Regions from separate parts of the Homo sapiens genome. Here region 1 is linked to region 2. The links come from fine-mapping of genetic effects on gene expression. A gene starts in region 2. The other region holds a variant in brackets. All regions are shown on one strand. Distances are between the middles of the regions.

Region 1 (4,386 bases), 22 kb after region 2:
GTTTGGGAGATAATGTTACTCTTGGCTTCTTAGCATGTATTTCTTAAGCACCAGCTCTGTGAAGAAACACACACAAACACACACGCACACACACACACACACACCCCACTATGCCAGAACTACTGCGAACTCAAAAAGCATTGGGACATATTCTTCAAGTCTGAAAAAAGAGAAAGGAAAAGTAGACGGGGAAAGGAAGCAAACAAGAGACCTAGGAGAGTTTTAAGCAAGATACTAGCCATTTCAGAAAGGATGAGCTCTTCTTCAATTATCTTCCTCCTGCTCCTCCTCCTCTCCTACTAGTACTTCTACTACCATTGATAATAACAATATTTCCTACAGGTGCAGGTCATTATGCCAGTAAATCACCTTCTCTTGTGGGCTTCTTGTCACATGAGCAAGATGCACAAGCCACAAACCATCATGATGGAGGGCTCAGGCTTTGGAGTAGGACACCCGGAGTTTGAATCTCTGTTGTACAACTAGAAACATGGCCTTAGGTGTATTGTCAAACCTCACTAATCTCCAGACAATTTTTTTTTTTTTTTGAGACAGAGTCTAGCTCTGTCACCCAGGCTGGAGTGCAATGAAGCAATCTCAGCTCACTGCAACCTCTGCCACCCGAGTTCAAGCAATTCTCTTGCCTCAGCCTCCCCAGTAGCTGGGATTATAGGTGCCCGCCACCATGCCTGGCTATTTTTTCTATTTTTAGTAGAGACGGAGTTTCACCGTGTTGACCTGGCTGGTCTCGAACTCCTGACCTAGTGATCCACCCACCTCAGCCTCCCAAAGTGCAGAGTTATTCACATTATAATTATAATCGTACCTTAGAGAACTATCGTGAGGAGTAAAGGAGGAGCCATAAGTTAAGTTCTCACCTTGGTGCCTGGCACATGATGAACTCAACATATGTACATTATTGTGGACATTATAGTTCATTCTGGAATGTGGCTGCCTGGATTGGAAGCTCAGCTCTTCTACTTATGCGATATGTGGCCTAGGGTAAGTTACTTAAGCTCTCTGTGCCTAGTTTCCTTCTTAGGGTTTAATTATCCATACTGCTAACAATCAATGAGGTGGCCTTTTTCATTTTATTTCATTCTAAAAACCTACAATAGGATTGTTGTGAGAATTAAATGAAATATATATATATGTATTTATATTATATTATATTACAAGAAGTGTATTTCTTAGACTATCGGCTGGCATATAGGAAGCACTATATACATGTTTGTGGTTATTCACATTTCTTGAATAAATAATCTAGGTGAATTGTGAATTTAACACCTACTAAGTGCCAGGCAGTGAACAAACTAAACCATCCCTACACTCATGAAGCTTACATTCATGTGGAGGAGCAGCTAATAAACAAAATAGGATGCTAGATAAACAGGAAAGGGGTACAAAGTGTGCTGAAGGTGGAAATGGGGGGTTATCCTCCAATACGAGACCTTTGGAGTGAAGGTCTGAAAGACGTGGAGGTGCAAGCCATGCAGGTGTCCAGGGGAAGCACATCCCAGGGCAGTGATAAAAGATCAGAAATGCTATAACTGCCATCACCCAGCCTGCTCAGGGTGGGTGCCCATCCAAGGTCACTTTGGAAAAGTTAGGTCCTCAGCAAACAACCCTGCTCCCTAATAGCGTATGAATCCCATTAACGCATAATGTGTGGAGGGTTTGTTTTATTTTTTAACCCTACCTCAGTTTATGAGTGTGCATGTACACAAAGTGCATACACTGTATGGTGAGAACATGCCTGGTGTGTTTGCGAAACACAGAGCAAACAACTATGGCTGGGTCACAGTGAGCCTGGGGAAGGAGCAGGGACACAGTTAGGGAAAACAGCCAGGAGGGGTGTGTGTGCAGATATCAGGGTTGTCAAAGCCCTCATAATGACTCCAGCTTTTAAATGATTATAGAGGCAGGTGTGGTGGCTTAAGTCTGTAATGCCAGAACTTTGGGAGGCCGAGGAGGGAGGATTGATTGAGCTAGGAGTTTGAGACTACAGTGAGCTATGACCATGCCACTGTGCTCCAGCCTGGGTGACAAAGTGAGACCCTGTCTCCATAAATAAATAAATAATTATATGGAGCAGGTAGTACAGAAGGGTCAGTATCCACAATACTAACAACTAAGGACCAAAGAAATGTACTGACCTGCCCTGGGAAATTCATGGCAGGAGATGCCTTAGAACCAGAAGGTGGCCCCTGAGTCGGCAGTCTTTATATTGCACCGTGCTGTCTCCCACCCTGCTGAGGTCATGAGAGACCTTTTCCTTACTCGATGCTCACAGCAACACTACAGGACTGGTGTTAATATCTCCACTTTACAACAGAGGACACTGAGTCTTAGAAACGTTAAGTGCTTTGTTCAAAGTCACATAGGATTGGAACCAGATCAATTGGACTTCAGAGGTCTTGTTCTTTCCATTAAAGCATGTGATATGAAATCTGAAAGATACACATTTGTGCTCTGAATCATCTATGCAGTGTCCATCTAGATGTTGGTACCCTTTTCAGCCTCTCTACCCAGTGGCCTCTCTACTTACTTGTGTCTGTGCTTGTTCAGCTTTGTCACCATGACAACCATCCCTCTGTCAGAAACACCCTGTCCTCAGTCTTGACTGACTCTCCCTGAATGAAAAGATCCTTCCATTCATAGGTAAAATATGGAATTTATTCAGAAAAACCACTCAGTACAATGTGTACTACAGGATATCACTTGGCTCACATCACAGACATGGACTATATGACTT[T/C]ACAATAAATTAGATGGGAAGGCAGCCCTTTACTCCCAGGATGGCCTGCAGGCCCTTTCAGCAGATAGAGTTTATTACAAATACCACAGTAGACTTTTTGGCTATTTTCAAGCGGAATAAGACAGCCTGAGGCCAGCCAGTGGGACTTTCAGCTGCAAGGGGCCTTCCCCATCTCCTTCCCCTTCAAGGTGGGCTGTCTCCCACAGTAAACCGCACAGGGGGTGTTCATCCCTGGATCACTATACAGGTTCCTTGTCATCAAGCTGAGAACATTACTTCATGATTCTTATTAATCCAGGCTAGAAAGACGTCGAGCTCTCCCAGGGATTTAATGGCAGCAGCGTGGACCTCCAGCTGAAATCAGAGATCAATGTAAGAACCCACCTTTCTAGACTGTGTAATGGTTTTCAAGTCACTTTCTTCATATGCTGGTTCCCACAAGGTTTTGTTTCTGTTTTTGTTTTTTTGTCACGAAATATATTTGCATAACATACAGACTCAATATTATTTTCCTCGCAGGCAACCAATTTTTTTCCCCACAAACAAGTAGTTAAATTATGTCAGCTCCTTATAAACAGAACTTTAAAATTCTTCATTCTTTTCCCTCAGGTTTTTTTTTCCTCTGTTTTTCACAGGAAAAAAAAATCTGCCTTACTGGCCAGTTCCGCTGATTTTCTTCTCCACACCAGCTTGCTTTAGTGCTTCTGTTATCCCAGAACATCTTTGTCCCTGAGGTGCTGGACAGTGGGTAGGGAGAGCATGTTGTCCTCATTTGACATATTAGAGCACTAAAGCCCCTAGAGCAAGTGTCCTACCCAATGTCACACAGCCAGTTAGTAACAGAGCTGGAAATGAAACCCAAGTCTCCTGCCTTATTCCACCTCCTTCCTCAGCAGACTGAGTTCATGCTTTTAGCGCGTCCTGTAGAGCCAGCCAGCGTGGAATTGAATCCTACCTCTGCCGTGCAGTTGCAGTGTGAACTTAGTTTAGTTACTTTACCTGCTCGAGCCTCAGTTTCTTAATGTATCCAATGCAGATAATGACTCATAGCATTGTTGGGAAGGACGAATGTGTGTTAATACTTGTTGTGTGCCTAGAGCAATACCTGGCTTATAGTAAGAACCATGTAACTCTTAGCTATTTCTATAACATTATCTTACAGAGTCTCTCCACAAAGAAGCAGAGCCCATAACAGACTCCCTAACTCTTGCTCTTCAAAGCATTGGTATCATTTGACAGTGTGATCTAAATGCAGAAACTCAGGCTCATCCCAGCCCTGCTGAGCCAGAATCTGCATTTTAACAAGATCTTGAACTGATGCTCATGAGAAACACTGCTTCTTCCTCTACCTCCACGTGAGATGTGCATTTTACACCAACATCAACATGAGAAGTACCATGTCTTCATCACTACACACAATATGGGGGGGCAGGTAGTGATCGCAGTGACGGCGTGCAGGTAACACGTTTCAGGCGTAACAGCTCACATTTCATGGGGGATCTTTGCTCCCTCTGTGTCATCCCATCTTAAGCAGTGGGTGCTTTCCCCAAATCATACAGGTCAGGCTTGATATATGAGGGTATGAGAAAATGGTGGAGGAATGATGGAGATGGGGAGCCCAGGAGATTAGC
Region 2 (4,387 bases):
GATGAAATTCCTACAAGATGATGTGGGAGGCATCTAACTCTGAGAGAAGGAGCCAGCACCTTCCTGAAAGTGATGCCCAGGCTGAGTCTTTAAAGGATGAGTAGGATTTAGTCAGTGAGGAGTGAAATCCAGGCCTTCCTGGCAGACATGAGAAGGTGTGAAGGTGAGAAATTGAATGGCATGGGTGTGTGTGTGAAATTGTGAGTGTTTTCAAAGGTACATAGAAGTGTGTGAACATTGTAAAACTATTGCCTCTGGTTTGTGCAGCTAAAAGATCCAGATGTCACTGTAGTGACTTGATGGAATCATGGCCATTCCCTTTCCATTTCCAGAGCATCACCCAGAGAGGGTACTCCTCTAGAGCCTGGATGGGTGTCCCCTGGGTTAAAGCAAGGGCTGGTCCTCATGATTTCAGAGGGCTATGAACCTGAAGGCTACAGGATGTCTAACAGTGAATAACCATCCCACCTACCTATGATCTCAGTTCTTAAAACACACCCATCCCAATCAATGCCAAAGTCGCATATACCTTTTCAAAGTGACTCAGAATCTGGCTGTATTTCTTCATTGCTTCCTCCCCACAATGGCATGTCATGTGGGCATGCTGAAAAGGACCCAAAGAATAATAGATTATATTACAGATTCTGATTTTTTGCCATTGACATGAAGCAGGCAGAAACTCTACTCTTTCACCCACAACCCTGAGGATGCTTATTCCTATAGAAAAGCTCTTTCAGACCTCACATTTGGAATCACTAAGTTCATCATCAGCTAGGAGAGGAAGCCACCTTTTAGGCTCAAACATGGAACTCATCACTTCTTTTTTAGAAATAGGCAGGCAGTACTGAAGGCATTTGCCATCCCCGTACCCCATCTGGCCTCCCCACAACCCCCAGCTGTAGTCTAGGAGCTCTATCCCAGAGCTCTTTGAGCCCCCATGAGAAAAAAAAAAAAAAGAATTGAATTCCTAGGTCCTATTCAGACTATATTCTGAGGTCAAGCTCAATGGTCTACTAATTGACTGCCTAGACAGAGGACGCACTAATATACTGTAGGATACCTCACCTACAGAAAAAGTATAATTTCAAAGACAACAGAGTTATCATTAATATCAAATAGTTAGCATCTTATAGTTCTTTAGACTTTGCAAAGTACTTTTTGCCTAGAGCATATACCGAAAAGTCAATAAAACTGAGTTCTTATTACCTAGTCACATGTCTCAACACAGATTATTAGAACTTTTGGACTCAGTTTCTCCATCCATTAAATGGAGGTAGGAAAGAGAGTTTAGTTGCTAAGCCATTGAAGCTGTGTGCTGAGATGCATCCTGTCACCCAAGACCCACACTCACACAGAGCCGGAGGTCCTTCTTGATGGTAAGAAAGGAATTGGCGAGGCTGCTGATCTTCCGGAGAGTATAATGGTCAGGGGTCTGGTAGTTTTTAAATACCCTGTCCAGATAGAGTCTTAGCAAATGGCGCAGGAGGCAGCATCGATTCGCAGGCTGCAAAAAACCACAGGTATATTGGTGAGGGGAAAGGGGAGAGCAGAGACAAGACCAGGGTGATGGAGATGCTCCCACTCCACTCCTCCTCCCAGAGTTTGTCTGGGCCAAGCACATACCTTTGTGTCTTGCAAAGACTCAGTCCTCCTTAAGATTCTGATGTCAATGTTTCCATCTTTGGCTTGCTAAACAGAAGAAGACAAAACAAGCAAGGATGAGTCAGTGCCTGCTGCCAGGGTCTTCAATATCAAGACTTCTCATCCACTCCCTGCCAAGAACTAGTGGGAGGTGTCCTTTCCCAAAACATTTTAAATATTTGAACTACAGTTATTTCTTTGGAATACATCCCCCGGGTAAGGAATCCCCAGCCTGCCTCTTTTTATGATTACACTGCCAGTACTGCCAGGAAAGAGAAACGGACAAGGAAGGAAGAGAAAAGGCTTTCAGGAGAGGTAGATACCCGCTTACGTACCACACTGCCCCGTATCTCAGAAAATCCATTTCGTATTTCCTGAAGGTTTGTGGCGATCACACAGCTTCCCAAATTGAGTGTCTTCAGTCCAGTGGAAGGAGTCCATAGGAGATAAAACGCAGCAGAGAGAAGGCTGAAGGCAAGACTAGAGGCTTTCATCTTAGGCCTGAAATCTGGAGACCACAGGAGCTAGGAATTCAAAGAAGAGAGCATGACTTACTGAGTTTCCCCTCCTCCAAGTGTCCACGGGGTGAGGGGTGGGGGGTCAGGGGAAGAGAACAGCCTTATCTGGCCTCAGACAGTGTGGCCCATCCACGCAACTTACTAAGAAAAACTGCCAAGCCTCCCGTGAAGAGAAGATTTCAGGTCTGAGTTCAGAGTCTGAGTGCGAGTTGGTGGCACAGGTCGTGGCTCCTTTATTCTGTCCCCATCCTGGCTCCGCCGTTAGTGCCCAGCAGGTAAGGCCTGGAACAGCAGGCACTTGCAGTGAATAGATAGAGAATGACATTTCAGGGGAAATGTCAAAACTTGTTTTGGGGAATTGACGCATATAGCCTCCCCTTCCAGAAAGCCAACGTAGCTCACCCTTCTGGTCCCCTCAGACCCACAGGGGAACTGGGGAGAAATCGAATCTCACAGAAGCTGTGGCTGCGCCATCGAAAACACCTAGGGGGAAATTGTCTGGATTTTATGGCCACCCACAGGGCAGAGAAACTGAGCTCTGTTTGGCATTTGTCTGAGATCAGATAGGTTATTTGAGGGTAACAGATTCGCTTAAGCCCCAGAGGCAAATAGAAAGTCAATGATTTCATAACAAGCCTACTGCCAGGGAAAGGCAAGACGTGATGGGCAATCAGCCCGATTCCACCTAACACTCGTGTCTGGGACTCCACAGCGCCCTCTGCAGGAGGACTGTAGTCAGGCACTCCTGGGTGGATTCGAGAGTACACGCTTTCCTGGACCTGCAACTCAGGTCCTAGACCAAGCAAATGGTCCCAAAAGTCAGAGAAGAAAGGCAATGACGGAACTCATTTATTCTTGGGCGAGCCTCCTCAGTAAGAGAGCAGGTTAGGGTGTTTGCTGAGTTTTAAGATAAAATAATAATGGGCTGAGGTTAGGGTAAAACAATTGAGGCACTCATTTTAGGTGCAAAATTTAAGGGAGCACTAAAAAACCTCAGTCATCAAGATAAAAATATTTTAGTGCAATATCAAAATGAATTAAAAAGCTTATGACAAACAAAATATCAAAATTTTATATAAAGACAAAATTCGACAGTGCCATGCTGAGCCATATTGAAGCAAAAGGAAAAATTTGTACCACTATTCACATGTTTTCATGTTTCATTCTTAATGGTTAACTTTGTTTCTCAAAAGCATATGATGAAAATATTATTGATGAGTTTCCTTCCCTTAAAACCAGGACAGTAAAATTATAATAAATTTTGTTTGGGGCAGAAATAAAATATTTAAACTTAAAGTCATGAGTCGTAATAAACCTACTTTTTAATTTTTCAATTTTCTCAAATACTTTAATATTTTTGAAAGAAATAAATACATAAAATTTATAAAGACATATATATATACACACACATCATATATATATATGCACACATCCATATATATATGGCTGGCTCCATAGCTTGGCACAGCACTGATAATCATTATCACTTACTGAATTTTTCCTATATGCCAGGCAATATGCTAGACATTTTTTACATTTGTGACCACTCGAGATACTGTCAAATGTAGGAAAAGGAAAAAAGCAAACCAAACCCAAAAGAATCAAAGAGGACTCTGGGTTTGGAGACAAGAGAACTGGGTCCAAATAAATCCTCGCTTTACTAGTTTCCATTGATGTGGGTCATTCCAGTTTACCCAGCACTGAGGTTGGGGGGCAGGGAATGGTTCCTGAAATACGAAAATTTCAGTTTTAAAACTGGAAAAACCACAGGTAAACTGGAATGAGTTGGCCACCCTACCTCTATGTGACCTTGGACAAGTCAACTCACCTCTGAGTTTAATTTTCTTAACCCCAAAATGGTGATAATTAAACTTAACCCAGAAATTGTTTTGATTTTAAATCGATTATTTAAATACAATAATCTATGATTTATACACTTAGCACAGAGCAAGTGATCAATTCATTTTAAGTAGAGATTGATGTTAGTTGTCCTGAACTAACAATTTGATGAGCATTTAATGAGCACCCGCTGTCTTGAATGTTGTGCTAGGTACTGAAGTACAAAGATAAACATGATGATTATTTGTCCTCAAAGAGATTTTGTCCTCGTGGAAAAGGGTCCTTTAGATGTGACCTTGAACATACCTGGGTAAATGATTAGGAGAAGTAGGTGATCCTCACAACAACGTGAGCAGTGTCAGTAGAGGGTAAGATCTCTTACCTGAGCT

Direction of the effects. Alleles are on the strand shown, and positions count from the first base shown. SD is a standard deviation of normalised expression in the study named.
For the expression in testis of the gene that starts at base 2,365 in region 2, C is the high allele of the variant in region 1 and T is the other (moderate effect, 0.65 SD a copy in GTEx).

The links. PIP is the estimated chance that this variant, and not a neighbour inherited with it, causes the effect.
Region 1: its variant is fine-mapped to the expression of IL20 in testis (GTEx, PIP 0.97).

The regions. Positions count from the first base shown.
Region 1 is chr1:206,841,250-206,845,635 of GRCh38, reverse strand. It overlaps IL19 (interleukin 19), which reads right to left. Exons shown (of 7, transcript NM_153758.5): 7 at 2,655-3,109. The coding sequence ends at 3,014. It overlaps LOC105372878 (a long non-coding RNA gene), which reads left to right and starts at 2,815. Exons shown (of 3, transcript XR_922482.3): 1 at 2,815-3,127; 2 at 3,918-4,213. The variant T/C (reference allele first, on the strand shown) is at 2,756.
Region 2 is chr1:206,863,601-206,867,987 of GRCh38, reverse strand. IL20 (interleukin 20) reads right to left here and starts at 2,365. Exons shown (of 6, transcript NM_018724.4): 1 at 2,302-2,365; 2 at 1,977-2,165; 3 at 1,624-1,689; 4 at 1,352-1,504; 5 at 530-604. The coding sequence starts at 2,135.